2 separate regions of the Homo sapiens genome follow, and region 2 is linked to region 1. Evidence: fine-mapped expression QTL. Tissue or cell type: sigmoid colon. Region 1 holds a variant in brackets; the other region holds the start of a gene. All regions are shown on one strand. Distances are from middle to middle.

Evidence for each region. PIP is the estimated chance that this variant, and not a neighbour inherited with it, causes the effect.
Region 2: SETX starts here. The variant in region 1 is fine-mapped to the expression of SETX in sigmoid colon (GTEx, PIP 0.99).

Annotation. Positions count from the first base shown.
Region 1 is chr9:132,274,071-132,282,331 of GRCh38, reverse strand. It overlaps SETX (senataxin), which reads left to right. Exons shown (of 26, transcript NM_015046.7): 20 at 758-865; 21 at 4,075-4,262; 22 at 5,180-5,272; 23 at 6,912-7,076. Among named protein-coding and RNA genes, the nearest start is that of SETX, 77 kb to the left of the region's middle. The variant A/G (reference allele first, on the strand shown) is at 4,046.
Region 2 is chr9:132,350,839-132,358,838 of GRCh38, reverse strand. SETX (senataxin) reads left to right here and starts at 3,853. Exons shown (of 26, transcript NM_015046.7): 1 at 3,853-3,922; 2 at 5,084-5,190. RefSeq lists silencers at 3,554-3,943, 3,994-4,203 and enhancers at 3,588-4,087, 3,069-4,268, 4,088-4,589, 7,597-7,646.

The sequences.
Region 1 (8,261 bases):
AGTGAGACTCTCTCTCTCAAAAAAAAAAAAAATAAGTTAAAAAATAAATAAAAAATTTAAAATAAAGTTTTAAAAGGACTTTAAAGGAGAAAAATTTTTCAGGCTCATGCCCAGCAGGAACAAAAAGCACGCATCTAGGATGTGCATGGCCTTCTGAACTTACGGCTGGTTCCCAAGTGGTAGTGGCCCCGTTGGTGGCTGACTTCAAAAATACAAGTTTGATTTTTTTTTTAGACATGTTTGGAGAGTTTACTTTTTATTTATTTATTGTTTTTTTTGAGACGGAGTCTTGCTTTTTTTTTTTTTTTTTTTAGAGACGGAGTCTGCACTCACCCAGACCGGAGTGCAGTGATGTGATCTCGGCTCACTGCAACCTCTGCCTCCTGGGTTCAAGCAGTTCTCCTGCCTCAGCCTCCCAAGTAGCTGGGATTACAGGCACTTGCCACCACGCCCAGCTAATTTTTTTGGTTGCGCCATGTTGGCCAGGCTGGTCTTGAACTCCGGACCTCAGGTGATCCACCCACCTCGGCCTCCCAAAGTGCTGGCATTACGTGTGTTAGCCACTGCACACAGCCTGGAGGGTTTATTTTGTTGGTTTTGTTTTGTTTTTTTGTTTTCAGGGAAAATTTGTATTTTTGATATTTGGTGCAGGAGAAGTGTGATACTTTTCTGAATGGTTAGAACTTTAATCAGATAAACTATATGGATAAATAGCAAAGATTGTTAAGACTGCCTCTCTCTTCTGTATCTTACCAAGGCTGGACAGTCTTGTGAAATTGAGACTCTTACTCCACTCATCCATCGCTGCAATAAGCTCATCCTAGTAGGAGATCCTAAGCAGCTCCCTCCGACAGTCATCTCTATGGTAAGTTTTTTATGTTCAGATTGCTTTAAAATGGAAGGGGCTTTTTAAAATTTTTGTTTTCAGGAGGGAGAGACATCTTTCTTGGATTGGCCTCTTAATTTGGAGGGAAAAGTAAGCAGTAACTAAGAAAAGAGAAGCACTTAATAAATTTTAAAAAATGCCTAAAAATGTCCATTTGGTCATAGTTGTTCTTCTGTGTATGTGTGGCAGAAGCAGTGTGGCAGGGACTTGGAAGCCTAGATGGATGACGTGCCATGGAAACCAAGCTTTGGGAAAGGCAGTGTGCATGTCTGCCTTTTTTAAGTCTCTTAAGAGCTGAATCTGATTTATTTTAATCATACAAACACCAAAACAATAATAAAAGAAAAACTTCAGAAATAAAGAGAAGAATCCTACCCTCCTCATTTTTGTTTAAATATGTACAAATTGAGGAAAACATGAAGTTAAATTAATTTTGGAGTACATTTCCATTTTTAGAATTTGGTATTCTAGTGTTAATACAAGAACATGTCTGTGCCCTTCACATCATCTGAAAGTGAAGGTACAGGGGAAAAAAAGACTCAATTACAAGCTCTGACTTTGGGAAGAGAAGAACCAGACTGTAGTCTACTCTTCTCTGTTGGTTTTTTTTAATCTCATGAAAGATTCTCCTGGAAATGCACATTAGAATCAGGATCCAGTAGATGTTTTGAAGTAATCTGAAGAGGTTTTGAAATTTAATGAAATGTGTATTTTTTACTAATAACATAGATTATTTATACAGATAATTGAGCAGTGGCTTCATAAATAATCCTAGAGAACAGATCATTTTCAAAGCATTTTTGTTGAAGCTTGGAATGAATGCAGGTGGTTATCGTTAGTGGTTTTTGATTTCGGAATTATTCAGAATGATAGTGCAGTTCTTTGTATGACATTTGAGCGCAGGTACATGATCATGTTAGAGTGTGGCCCAGAAGCACACCCGTCACCCAGTGAAAACCCGTGTGTGTAGGGAAGAACTGCTGCAGGTAACTTTGTTCACGGAGAATAATGAAGAGCAAATTCTGTATCCCATTTCTTTAAATGATGCAGGATTTCATTGAAGGGCCTTGGCATATAGTGAAAAGAGAGATTGTTAATGGGCCTCAACTTTACTGCCTACTTCAATGATTGATAAAAACAACAAAAATTAGAAAAAAAAAATCCATTTGTGCTGTTTAAATTGTTGTACAAATAAAACAGGCTATTTTGAGAAAATAATTACAAAGTTCATTTCCATAAGGTGCCTTTTTTGACCACCTGTTTCTAGTGGTAATTACAGTGAAAGTGAGTATTTTTAACAGATATTGCTAGGCATTTGTGTGTTTATTCGTCTTTTTCAGTATGTATATATTGAGTGCCACCATAATTCAGGCACTGTTTAGGGGCTGGGGTTATGACAGTGAAGAAAACAGACAAAATCCCTGCCCTTATGGTGTTTGTATTCTAGGGGTTAACAGTGAGTCAGTTACTAAAAAGTGGTATATGGTTTGTATACATGTATATGTTTATGTGTATATGTACGTGGGTTTGGTTTTGTTTAAAGGTGGCAAAATCATTCTGTGCAGAATTGGTTTTTTTTTCAATCAGTAAATCAGGGACATCCTCCCATGTCAGAATATATATTAATAAATCTATGTCATTTGTAGAATGGACTAAGGTTTTGTCTGGAGGTAGATGCGTTACCTTACATAACTTCCTTTTCTGTTTCCCCAAAGAAAAGATTAAAAATTAGGTTTTGTGAGCTAACGCAGATAAACTTTTGAGGATTTAGGGAAAATTGGCATGTATCTATTAATAATTATTTTATGCTTTCACAAACCTGTTTAAAATCACACATATAAATAGGTTAAGAAGTAATGCCTTTCTTCCACTCCCATAGTTTGTGAAACAAGTTTATTCAGGCTTTGCACGTCTTCAGTGCCAGTATCTTTCACATCACTCATGAAGATTCCATCATCTTAGTGAAGTTTTCAGCACATTTTTACTTCAGGGTTATTTAAGATAAAGTACTTTTTGAAACTTTTCTTTTTTAATTATACTTTAAGTTCTAGGGTACATGTTCACAACATGCAGGTTTGTTACATATGTATACATGTGCCATGTTGGTGTGCTGCACCCATTAACTCGTCATTTACATTAGGTGTATCTCCTAATGCTATCCCTCCCCCTCCCCTTTTTGAAACTTTCTGTGTTGCTGCCATCGGAAAGTAGATCCCAAGGCACAACTGTGGTAACATCAAGACAGTTTATCCCACTTGTCACTTAGGTCACTGTTTTTCAGATTGCAGAATATAACCCATTATTTGGTTTGTGAAATCCATTTAGCACAGCTTCGGCGTTCCTAATTCAAAAATTTGAAATGCTTCACCATCTGAAACTTCCCAAGTGCTGACTTTATGCTTAAAGTTCACGCTCGAAGGATATGCTCATTGGAGTATTTTGGATTTTTGGATTAGGGATGGTCAACACATAAGTCGAGTCTGTTTCCTTCACTGGAAATTAAGTCCTGTGAGACTTCATCTTATTCACTCTAGTGGTCTTAGCACTTCAAATTATAGATGCTTAGTACATATTAGATGGATGAATGAAGAATTTTGTCTTCAAAAGGCTTGTTTACAGTGGCATTCAATATGTCTGTCTGTGAGGGTGTACCCCCAGAAATAATTGTTAAAATCTGTGTTACATTTCCTTTATTACTGGTTTTTTTGGGTGGCGTCTTGTAGCATCAAAATAGCATCAGTTGTCTTTCACAAGATCATATCTCTTTCATTAGCAGTATATGAGTAGAAAAGACCTCCACATATATTCAAGATTCATGGCATTTTGGCCAGGTGTGGTGGCTCATTCCTGTTATCCCAGCTACTCAGGAGGCCAGAGACATGAGAATCGCTTGAACCTGGGAGGTGAAGGATGCAGTGAGCTGAGATCACGCCACTGCACTCCAGCCTGGGTGACAGAGCGAGACTGTGTCTCCAAAAAAAAAAAAAAAAAAAAAAAAAAAAAAAAAAGATTCATGGCATTTTGAGGCTCAGAGTCAGAAACACCTTTTTTCTCTGAAGCTGTGGTTGGTAATCTTATGCTACCTGAACGTTGCCATATACGTATTAGATCTCAGTAATTGTGTTTATAATAGTGGGAAAGATATAAATGAATTCTTGG[A/G]AACTGTTGCTTTATTTTGCCCCTCACAGAAAGCACAGGAGTATGGCTACGACCAGTCAATGATGGCTCGCTTCTGCAGACTGCTGGAAGAGAATGTAGAACACAACATGATCAGCAGGCTGCCCATTCTACAGCTCACTGTTCAGTACAGGATGCATCCAGACATATGCCTCTTCCCTTCTAATTATGTTTATAACAGAAACTTAAAAACAAATAGGTGAGTTCCCCTTATTGTTTGTGACCTTATTTTGTTGTAGTTTAGCTACTTATGAAGAATAGACATTTTACTGTCGTCTTAGGTCTTGTCATAAAAAGCATAAATCATGAAGGGTTAATAATTTTGTCCTGTTATAATAGCCATCATGTTGAATACAGCAAAGCACATAAAAAAGAAAAGGGGAAAAAGTCACCTATATTTATACTACCCAGAAATAATCACTGGTAACATTTTGGTATATCCACTTTCAGCAGTCCTTTTTTTTTTTTTTTTTTTTTTTGAAGACAGGGTCTCATTCTGTCACTCACACAGGATGAGTGCAGTGGCACACAGTCCTGGCTCACTGCAGCTTCGACCTCCCAGGCTCAATCAATCCACCTGCCTCAGCCTCCTGAGTAGCTGGGACTACACTCAGTCACCACCATGCCTGGCTAATTTTTGTATTTTTCTTTTTGTAGAAACGGGGTTTCGCTATGTTGCCCAGGCTGCTTTCGAACTCCTGAGCTCAAGCAATCCACCCGCCTTGGTCTCCCAAAGTGCTGGGATTACAGGCGAGAGTCACCGCACCTGGCCAAGTTTCAGTCCTTTTACTATGCATATCTTTTTTTACTTTTTAAATTTTTGAAGGAAAAATGTGGGACCATACTTAACATAGTATTCTGTGGCTTACTCTATTATGAGTGTCTTTCCAATCATACTTGTTATATTTTAATGATATAGACACCTCTCCCAGCACCAGGAAAGAAATAGAATTTGTTTTGTACCTTTCACTAATACACGTCTAGAAAAGAATATTCCTGCTATCCCCTTACTTGCCCCAGCCCACATCACCACACAGAAAAAATTGTAGTAATACCAAGATATTTTCTTAAATCTTGACTTTATTCTGAATGTTGACTGCTTTTTTTTTTTTACAGACAGACAGAAGCCATTCGATGTTCATCAGATTGGCCATTTCAGCCATACCTTGTGTTTGATGTTGGAGATGGTTCAGAAAGACGGGATAATGAGTATGTTTTCCTCTTGCCTCAGTCCTCTGATAGTCCCAGAATTGTTACATGATTTGCATTCATATTTCTGTTAAATACATTTCCTATACACATCTCTCTGCCTAGTGTCAGGGCACAGTCATGTTCACTTAAGTTGATGCTTCTTTTTTCTGTATAATGGGGATAATATTACCTAATGTCATAAGCAAGTGCTTGAGTAGATACTTGTTGAGCTCACAGCAGTGAGGGAAACAGACGTGCCCATTGCAAGATGGTGGTCTCATGGGAAGACAGGCCTTCAGCAGGTCATCACCTGGGTAAGCAGTTATTCCAGTTGGGTTAAGTACTGTGAAGGCTAAGTATAAATTCAGTTGAATGAAAATGTGAAAGGGAGGAAGGAAGTAGTGACAGAGGTTGGATGGTATTGGGTTGTGAATAAGGGCATGTGTTCAGGTGGTCTGTATATGACAGCAAAGAGGAGTGGTGTTGCTAGAAGCAGCAATGTCAGAGGAGCTGGGGATTCTTGTGAGAGAGTAGGGGAGGAATGGTCTAGGGGCAGCATTTGTTGGCACGGATACAAGTGCCACTCTGTCATGAAGTAGGAGGAAACACAAATCCCACTTCTACATCATGGGATGGCTGCAGAGCAGGTGGCGTCCTCAGGCGAGAATCAGGCGTTAGATAAGATACAGAGGTGGAAGTAGGGAACACTCATTGAAGAGGTTACACATACAGAGGAGTTGTTGGCCATGGGATTGTAGTGCTGGAGGGACTGCAGCCTAAAGGTTTTAATGAGGCCTCTTGGAGGAGAGCAGAGGATTGCGAGTTAAGCCGCAGAGCATCATGAGGATTTCAGGGATGGAAGAGATCGCTAGCTGATTGGGTTGTCCATTTAGTAAGTCTCAAAGTTAGGAGAATGGGTATTTAAGGCTCGTAAAGCAAGGCGGGTAAGGTAGCCTCAGGAATCAAGGGATGGGGCAGTGCATCCCCTGGTCTTGGTGCATTTTGGGTCCGGTATGGTCATGAGGGAGCATGTGTTTTCAGGAGGGGTTGAGAGTGCAGGATATGAGGCTGCTGAGGACTACAAAGAGGACATGAACCTGCTCCAGGGCCCCATGTTGTTCAACTGGGGTCAAGTGGGACACATCCTTCACATTGAGTCTGTGTGGATGGCAGCTGCTCGGTTGTGTGGTGTGTGTTGTATGCAGCCAGTGGTGAGGGACAAGGAAGATCATACATGTAAAGCATTTTCTCAGTGTTCGGAAGATAGTTAATCCTTAATTCATGTTAGCTATCTCTTATTCACATCTTTGTTCTTATTAATACTGCTGTTCTTAATACTGCTCTCCCTGTTTCAACAGATGAAGAAAGTGGTGCCTAAACTTCAGTTGATTTCAAACTCTTTTCTCTCTACAACTTCATTTTTCACTGGGCATTTCACATGTATTCATATTTACCATAGTATTTTCACATTTATTCATATATACCATATTAATGGTCATTGTAACAGCCTCTTGGAGTCACTGCTAGCTGAATAAAAGATGAAGCCTATCTGCCTGCCCTTTACTATAATGGGAAACAAACTCAGTGGAACTTAAGTTAGCAATTAGCCTGCTATTAGTTTTGATAACACTGTGTTTTCTTTTTCCATCTTGTTTAGCTCATATATAAATGTTCAAGAAATAAAACTGGTGATGGAAATAATTAAGCTTATTAAAGACAAAAGAAAGGATGTTAGTTTTCGAAACATTGGCATAATAACTCATTACAAGGCCCAGAAGACGATGATTCAGAAGGATTTGGACAAAGAGTTCGATAGAAAAGGGTGAGGCATTTTTATAAATATTTCCAATTTTCTTGTTGAATTAGAATGAGAGGATATAGAAGGAAAGAAGAAAAGGGAAACTCTTAAGGAGTGGTCTGTGCAAATTGGTGATACGGCACGAGGAAGCTGGGATGCTGCTGGCTTTCATAGACTTGTGCTGTGTGGCTCCTGGGTAGACAGGTTACTTCCTGGCAGTTGGAATGTCAACATTCTCCTTGGCAGTGGAATTGACTAAGAAACTTGCCAGGTCTTTACCTTTTAGTTCCATGACTTGTTCATCTGAATTCTTGTTCTAGCAAGACTAAAAGTAACATTTCACTTTAAATAAATGATTTAACCCTTGTATTGCCTTTATGTATAGAATGAAAATCATGTTTTTGTTTCCTTCTTACCTCAGCAGTAAAATTAAAGATTAAATATTGGAGATCCATAACCTTAAAATCATCTTAACTTAGAAGCACACAGACTACCAAAATCGAATCTAGAAAACAATAGAAAATCAGACCTGTAGGCTGGGTGTGGTGGCTCACACCTGTAATCCCAGCACTTTGGGAGGCTGAGGCGGGCAGATCACCTGAGGTCAGGAGGTTGAGACCAGCCTGGGCAACATGGTGAAACCCCATCTCTACTGAAAAAAAATACAAAAATTAGCCAGGCGTGGTGGCGCGCTCCCGTAGTCCCTGCTACTCGGAAGGCTGAGGTAGGTAAATCGCTTGAACCCAGGAGGCGGAGGCTGCAGTGAGCTGAGATTGCCCCACTGCATCACTCCAGCCTGGGTGACAGAGCGAGACTCCATCTCAAAAAAAAAAAAAAAAGAAAAAATCAGACCTTTATAACAAATAATGAAACATTTCCCAATAATGAAAAGCCCAGAACCAAGCTAAGCTGGTGAATTCTATCAAATATTAAAAGAAGAATGAACACAAGTCATTCTCACATGCTTCCAATAAATAGAACACTCAGATTCATTTTTTGAAGCCAGTATTACACTGATACCAAAGCCAAGGGAAAGTATCACAAGAAAACTACAGATCCAAATCCTTTATGACTAGATACAAAAATCCTCAACAAAATAGTGACAAACTGAATTCAGCAGGTTATTACAAGGATTTATACATCAAGACCAAGTGGGATTTATCCCAGGAATGCAAGATTGCTTCAACATATGAAAATCAATATGATATA
Region 2 (8,000 bases), 77 kb before region 1:
ACAAGGTAATAATCTACCCACTCATTCCAGTTCAGGATCGCGGATGGCCAGAATCTTTCCTGGTGCCAGGTGGGTGCCAACTCTGGACAAGATGCCATCCCTTTGCAGGGTATACACTCACACACACACCCATGCTCACTCAGGCTAGGACAATGTAGACATGCCAATCAACCTAACTGGCACATCTTTGGAATCGGGAAGGAAATTGGAGTACCTGGAGGAAACCCACACAGACATGGGGAGAAGGGGCAAACTCCACACACAAAGTGGCCTCGGGGCCAGGCACGGTGGCTCACACCTGTAATCCCAGCACTTTGGGAGGCTGAGGCAGGCGGATCACGAGGTCAGGAGTTCAAGACCAGCCTGGGCAACATGCTGAAACTCCGTGTCTACTAAAAATACAAAAATTAGCTGGGCGTGGTGGTGCGTGCCTATAATCCCAGCTACTCAGGAGGCTGAGGCAGGAGAATTGCTTGAACCGAAACCTGGGAGGCGGAGCTTGCAGTGAGCCAAGATCGCATCACTGCACTCCAGAGCCTGGGCTACAGAGGGAGATTCCGTCTCAAAAAAAAGCCTTGAGCAGGAATGGATTTTTTTTTTCTCATCAATGTTATAACAAAACCACATTGAACAAAATGATCTTATTAGAGAACCTGCTATACTTAATATTGTTAAGGTGTCAATTGATTCCCCAGATGTATCTAAAAATACAATTCAATCCCTATAAAAATTCCAACTGCTTGTACTTATTTATTTGCAGAAACGGGACAAGCCAATTCTAAATATTCACATGGAATAGCAAGGGACCTTAAGTAGCTAAAACAATTTTGAAAAAGAACGATACTGGAGGCCTCATACTTCCCAGTCTTTTTATTTATTTATTTATTTATTTATTTATTTATTTATTTATTTATTTATTTATTTTTGGAGATGAGGTCTCACTCTGTCGCCTCGCCTCTCGGGTTCAAGCCATTCTCCTGTCTCAGCCTCCCAAGTAGCTGGAACTACGGGCATGCACCACTAAGCCTGGCTAATTTTTGTATTTTTAGTAGAGACCGGGTTTCACCATGTTGGCTAGGCTGGTCTTGAACTCCTGACCTCAGGTGATCTGCCCACCTCAGCTTCCCAAAGTGCTGGGATTACAGGCCTGAGCCATTGCGCCTGGCCATGTTTATGGTTTTATCAGCTTTAGAAGTTTGTAATTTGTACTTATTTATTCATTCCAAATAAGTATTAATTTTCATTTCTAATTTTATATTTACAAAGTCTATTGCAGTGCTTCTGTTTAACATTCTATAGGTTGTGTAAGTTTTGGGCTCAACAATTCCTGAATGCACCTTGAATCAATGAGTCTCAGGACATAACATTGAGTGTAAAAAGCAATTTGCAGAAAAATACATCCTCCATAATTCCATATACAGAGTTAAAAAGCATGTAAAATTTATATGTTGTTCACAGACAAAAAATGTGGGAAGATGATAAGGCCTACAGAGGGCTTCAGGGACAGGAGGAAATTATGACTTTTGTGGGCTCTGGGCACAAGTTACCTTCATGGCACTTTTCTCCATTAAAAAAAATGATAAAAATTATATTTTATGGCCGGGTGCGGTGGCTCAAGCCTGTAATCCCAGCACTTTGGGAGGCAGAGGCGGGCGGATCACGAGGTCAGGAGATCGAGACCATCCTGGCTAACACGGTGAAACCCTGTCTCTACTAAAAATACAAAAAATTAGCCAGGCGTGGTGGCACGTGGCTGTAGTCCCAGCTACTCGGGAGGCTGAGACAGGAGAATGGCGTGAACCCGGGAGGCGGAGCTTGCAGTGAGCCGAGATGGCGCCCCTGCACTCCAGCCTGGGCGACAGAGCGAGACTCGTCTCAAAAAAAAAAAAAAATTATATTTTATGACTGTGGTGGTATAAAGGCTGTGTTGGTATATTAGTGTTATATGATAAAACAAAATATGTTCAAAATATTTGACAGGATGAAGAAGTAGAAAAGAGGAAAATAACGGTCAACGCGTGCTGCTCCTTAGACGGTTAAATTTGCATAACGGCCACCACGCCCTTCCAACAAGCCACGCCCCCTTGCTAGAATCTTCCTTCGCCTTGGGCCTTTCCCGCAGTGTTCCCCTGGGCTTGCTCCTCATCCTCGGGCCAGGGTTCTCCTCGGTAAGGCTGTATCTGACCCACTTTTCCCAAGCTGGCCCATCTCAGCCTCTTTTTTTATCGCCTGAGTCACCACTACTAATTGTTTAATTTCCCTGTCTCCTCTATTAACTGTAAGACGGTGACGCTGCATCATCGTGGTCAGTAGTAGGCGTTACTAAAAGGGGGTAGGGGCCGGGTGCGGTGGATCACGCTTGTAATCCCAGCACTTTGGGAGGTCGAGGCGGGGCGGATCACTTGAGGTTGGAGTTTGAGACCATCCTGGCCAACATGGTGAAACCCCATCTCTACTAAAAACATGAACATTAGCCGGGCGTGTGGCACACGCCTGTACTCCCAGCTACTCGGGAGGCTGATGCAGGAGAATCATTTGAACCCAGGAGGCGGAGGTTGCAGTGAGCCGAGACTGCGCCACTGCACTTCAGCTTGGGTGACAGAGCGCGACTCCATCTCAAAAACAAAAAAGGGGGGGGATAGGCTTTCCAGTGGATTTTACTCATTTTTATTTATTTATAGACTTTTCTGAGACAGGGTCTTGCTTTGTTCCCCAGCCTGGAGTGTAGTGGCACAGTCACGGCTCACTGCAGTCTCGATCTCCCGGTCTCAATGGATATCCACCCCCTGCCTCAGCCTCCCAACAAGCTGGGCCCACAGGTGCTAATTTTTTTTTTTTTTTTTTTTTTTCCGGAGAGAGAGTCTCGCTCCTTTGCCCAGGCTGGAGTGCAGTGGTGCGATCTCGGCTCACTGCAACCTCTGCCTCCCGGGTTCAAGCCATTCTCATGCCTCAGCCTCCTGAGTAGCTGGGATTACAGGCACCCGCCACCACGCCCAGGTAATCTTTTTATTTTTAGTAGAGACGGAGTTTCACCATGTTGGTCAGGCTGGTCTCGAACTCCTGACCTCAGGTGATCCACCCGCCTCGGCCTCCCAAAGTGCTGGGATTACAGGCGTGAGCCACCGCGCCCGGCCTCGGTGGCTGAGTTTTAATTTTTTTTTGTACATACGGGTGTCTCGCTATGTTGCACAGGCTGGTCTCTGAACTCCGGGCTCAAGCGAGCCTCCCGCCTGGGCCTCCCAAAGTGGTGGGATTAGAAGCGGGAGCCACCGCACCAGCGAGGGATTTACTCTGCTGTGTTGCGCATCGCGCGCATTGTTCGCAAGACCTAAGGTCTCCCTTTCTTGTAATATAAAGGATATACACATATTCCTCCGAAATTACACGTTTATGTAATTTACATTTCAGGTCTTTAAAGGAAATCTAAAGAGAAAAATTACTTCGTCACCGTAGTACATCCGCTGAGACACCTGAGGCGTGGAAAAAAGAAGAAAAAAGAGGGAACGGAAATGGCCAGCGGGTAAGGGCTGACCCCACCCGCAGCAGAGCTCATCCCGGAGCCGCCCCACCCGCAGGAAGCCCCGGGCGGGGCCGAGGTCAAGGTTCCGCGGCAAACTCTCCCCGTCCACCCTGACGGGGACTCGGGATTGGTCGGGCCCCAGCTGCCCGGACGTGACGCCAGCGCCCGGCGTGGGCGGTGCACCGCGGCCGCTCTTCCCATGCCCCGCCCCCTGGGGGGCACCAAAACCAGAAAGCAGCGGCCGGGGCGGGGCCTGCGGCCGGCCGACTCAGCGCGGGGGCGGGGCCTACCTCGCGGCAACAGCTGGTTGGTAGCTGCGGCTGCGGGCCCGCACTTCCGCTGGTGGCCTAGAGCGGGGCCCGGTATGGAGGTGGGCTAGAGGCCGACGCCAGCCAGAGAGCGGTGAGGGTAGCGGCGGGCTGGAGGCCGTAGGTCGGGCGGGCGTGAGCGCAGGCGCGGCTTGTGCTTGCAGGGCCGCTTCGGGGAACCATCGCGGCGCCTAGGTCCCGGTGGGCGGATGGGGGAAGAGTCGGCGCGGGCTCGGCCGCTTCCCTCGGTGCGGGGGCGGGAGCACCCCTCGACGGCTGGCGGCCGCCTGTTGCCTTCCTGCGCGCTGGACCCGGCCGCTGCGACCCCCTGTCCTTCCGTTGTCTACACTGCGGTCTCGTGTGAGCTGTTTTTGGTGTGGATACTGCGTAGTTTCCTTGGGGCTGAGCGGGAGGTCTCGGGGTGGAAAGTGTCGGTTCCCTCCACACGCTCGTCTGCCTCTCGCCTGGAGTCCCTCCCTTTGTTTTTTTTTCTTTTTTCTTTTTTTTTTTTTTTTGAGACGGGGTCTCGCTCTGTCACCCAGGCTGAAGTGCAGTGGAACAGTCACGGCTCGCAGCAACCTCGTCTTCCTGGGCTCCAGCGATCCTTCCGCCTCATCCCCCCGAGTAACTGGGACCATAGGCGCGCGTCACCACGCCCGGCTAATTAAAAACAAAATGTGTTGCAGAGACAGGGCCTGGCTGTGTTTCCCAGGCTGAGCTCAGCTGCTCCAGGGATCCTCCGAGCCGCCGCGCCCGGCCGGTCCCTTCGTTTGGAGGAGAGTCTGTTTCTCCCACTTGGAGGGGCTGGAGCTTTTGCTGCTGGCCACAGGACTTTGTCCGTCCTCCCCAACTTCTGGGGATCTAAGGATGTGCCCAGCAATTTGCACGACCCAAGTGAAACGGGGGTGACTGCCTTGAGGGAAAAGAGCTCCACAAGGAGAAGGCCGAGTGTGGTATTTGATAAGTGACACAGCTGAGGATCCTAGGATTGATGTTACCTGCGCGGGCTAATAACTTGGGGGATTTTTGGCTCGGTGCCTAGCTGTCCCCGTGAGTGGGGACAGCCCCTTGTGGAACTGGGAGTCAGAATTGCAGTTCTGCTGTTTCCTGGAAGTCCACAGCCAAGTTGTCTAACCTATCTGGGCTTCCTCATCAGCCAGCAGTATCTGTCTGTAATAGGATCGATACCAGGCTCAGATGGGATATAGAGTATAAATGCCACTTACCAATTTCGTTTTTTGTTTTTTAATTTCAGAAATGTTCTTTTGGGGCCAGAGTCTGGGCATATATGAATGCAAATCCGTGTTTGTTCACAACTAAGCCCAGCTGAGACGATCACTTTTCTGTAGGCCATTTGTCCAGGTAATAATTTTTTTTTTTAGCAGGAGTTCAGAGCACCAAGGTAAGTGCAATGATGGAAACATGTGCAGAGTCCTAAAGGGACAGAGAAGAAGGTCATCAGAGATAGACTGGAAGAGAGGACGGGTCGGACAGGCCCCCCCCCCAGACGTGATGACACTCAGGAAGAGCTTGCACACTGGTTGTTCTCAAATCCAGCTTTCTCTTCGAATCTTAGTGGAGTTCTTTAAAAGGGAAACAATTTTATCCATAGGATCTTTTCTACTTTTTTTTTTAAGTTCCTGAGGTAAGTCTGATGTGTATTCACAGTTAAGTACCGGGCAGAGGTAGGAGGGTGGGTTTCCAAGGCCAGTGGAAGAGCTTCCATAAAGGCAGGGAATACCAGTCACCATGAATGGTTTTAGGAAGAGCAAGTCAAGGGAGGTAAGTGTGGAGGAAAGAGATGATGTGGAAGCTGGATCATCGCGGGCCTTGTGTGTGTTGAGCTCAGCAATTTGAATTTTATCCCAACATTGGAGGAGGAGTCATTTGTGCTTTCGAAGTCCAGTTTGGGGCTTTGGCCTCTGGCAGCATTTTGGAGGAGGAATTGATGGCGATCAAAGAAGAAATAGATCATTTAGGCTTCTTCAGTAATCCAGGCAAATGATGAAAATGTACTGAACTAAGGCAGTGGCGGTTGCACTGAGAAGAAAGTAGAGATGTAATTAAGGGGTAGGCTCTGGAGCTCAGAGATTGCGGCTGAGGGAGAAGGAGCGTATAGGATAATTCCTAGGTTACTGGTTTGAAAATTGAATGTATGGTAATGTCATCAACAAGGGAATATAGAACAAATAACAGATTTAAGGGAAGGACTTCGTTGGGTTCTGGTCATGTTTACTTTGAGGTGCCTGTCAGATATGTGAGTAGAGATACACTGTATGCAGTTGGATATTGAATATATCTGGAGTTCTAGGCTAGGCTGTCAGTTATTGAGTAGGTGGAACAGTGCATCATTTCACTCAACCTCCCCAGTAGCTGCGACTACAGGTGCATACCACCATGCCCAGCTAATTTTTATATTTTTAGTAGATACGGGGTTTCACCATGTTGGCCAGGATGGTCTTGATCTCTTGACCTCGTGATCCCTCACGCCTCGGCCTCCCAGAGTGCTGGAATTACAGGTGTGAGCCACTGCGCCCTGCCTGCATTAAGTTTTACAATACATTCTCAGTCTGGGCAGCTTCAATCTAGGCAGTAGTTGAAGCAGTGGTTTGAAGTAGGCCGCCCAGAAAGAGTACTGAATGAAGAGGTGAGAATTCTCAGGACAAGCCTTCGAAAACTTTAGCATTTATATGAGTAACAAAGGCAGGGGTAATTATGAAGGTGATTGGGTAGAAGTGGTGTCCAAAAAATGGTGTGTTGTAGGTAAGGAAAGGATGGGCAGCATTTTCATATGCTTTAGCAGAGTCAGGTCAGGAACCTATTGGATTGGTAATGTAAAGATTGTTAGGGACTTCACATTCAGTGGAGTGTAAGGGTAGAAGCCAGAGTGCAAAGGAGCTGAAGAGCTGGGAGGTAGTGAATCTAAACTTCCAGATGTTTAGCTGAGAAGTGTAGAAGAAAGAGATTGTTATTTGAAGTTTCTGGCTAGTTAATGTTGAGAAATGGATAGCCTAAGGATAAGTCTGTAGAAAATTACAGTAATACCTATGGTGAAGCATCCTATATTTTTGGTTTTGACACATTAGCTCTCTTTTTGGTGGGTGCTCAGAGAGTTGCTTTAATTTTGGTTTTGCAACTTGAGTATTGTCTGGACACACCCATTTGTCATTCACTAATGATTGCAAGCCGTTACAGTCTGATGAAACTAACAAAATAGACCTCAAGAAGAACTGAGTTGTATAAAAGCTTAAGAGGATTCACAGTAGTTTAGAAGCAATAATTTTCTCCTTAAAGACAAAATATGCCCTATTGAGGTTTCCTGGGCTTAGCCATTAGGCCAGTGATGATTTTAAATTTGAAGACAAAACCACACACACAGCCTTTTGAAGAAGAACCATGGAAGCACATGTTCTCTTGTTGGTGTGCTCTGCAGCAGTATTCTCCGTTATCTTCTAGCGGCCATGACACTCACCTATTTTGGTAGTAACTCCTATATATTTTGAGAAAATTTAGTCTTGCTTTTTTGGTTGTGGAAATAGGCTAGTTTTCTAAGTGAAATAAAAAGCAAATTCTGTAATTTTCTTAATAGAAGGTTTCTTTTGTTGTCTCCTTTGTTAGTACTTATTTTAAAGTACACAACATTTGGAGCTTCAAGTAAGGTAAGTGGGAAAAGAAGTATGCAACATTTTATTTGCATGGTAGTCTCACTTAAGTTTTTTAAAGCTTAAATTGGCTGCAGTCTGTTAGCTGCTGAAATCATGCTTCAAATGTTTGAGAAACCTCCATGAAGTTTCACTTTCTGTTCTTACGTCTTCTAAGTTCACTTTCCATATTAAACTAGGTTACCGGAAAAAAAAACAGCTTCTGCAAGCTGTTAACTTACTAGTAGTGTGATGTTGGCCTCTTAGGTATAAGTAATTCTTCTTTTGAATAAAATAATTTTAAATTCTGCAGAAATACATTGAAGACCTTATCCCATGTTACTTGGCATTTCCTAGTCTGCAGTGCCCTTGTACTAGAAGGCATTAATAAAATGTAATTGAGTTAGAGTTTGTGTCAGGAAAGGGCGGTACTCTGCGGCTATCACTGCATACTCTTTTTCCCCCCCACGTCGATGAGAACTGTGTAACTCATGTTATCCTTTTTCTCTGCTTTCAGGAAGCTCCTCATGT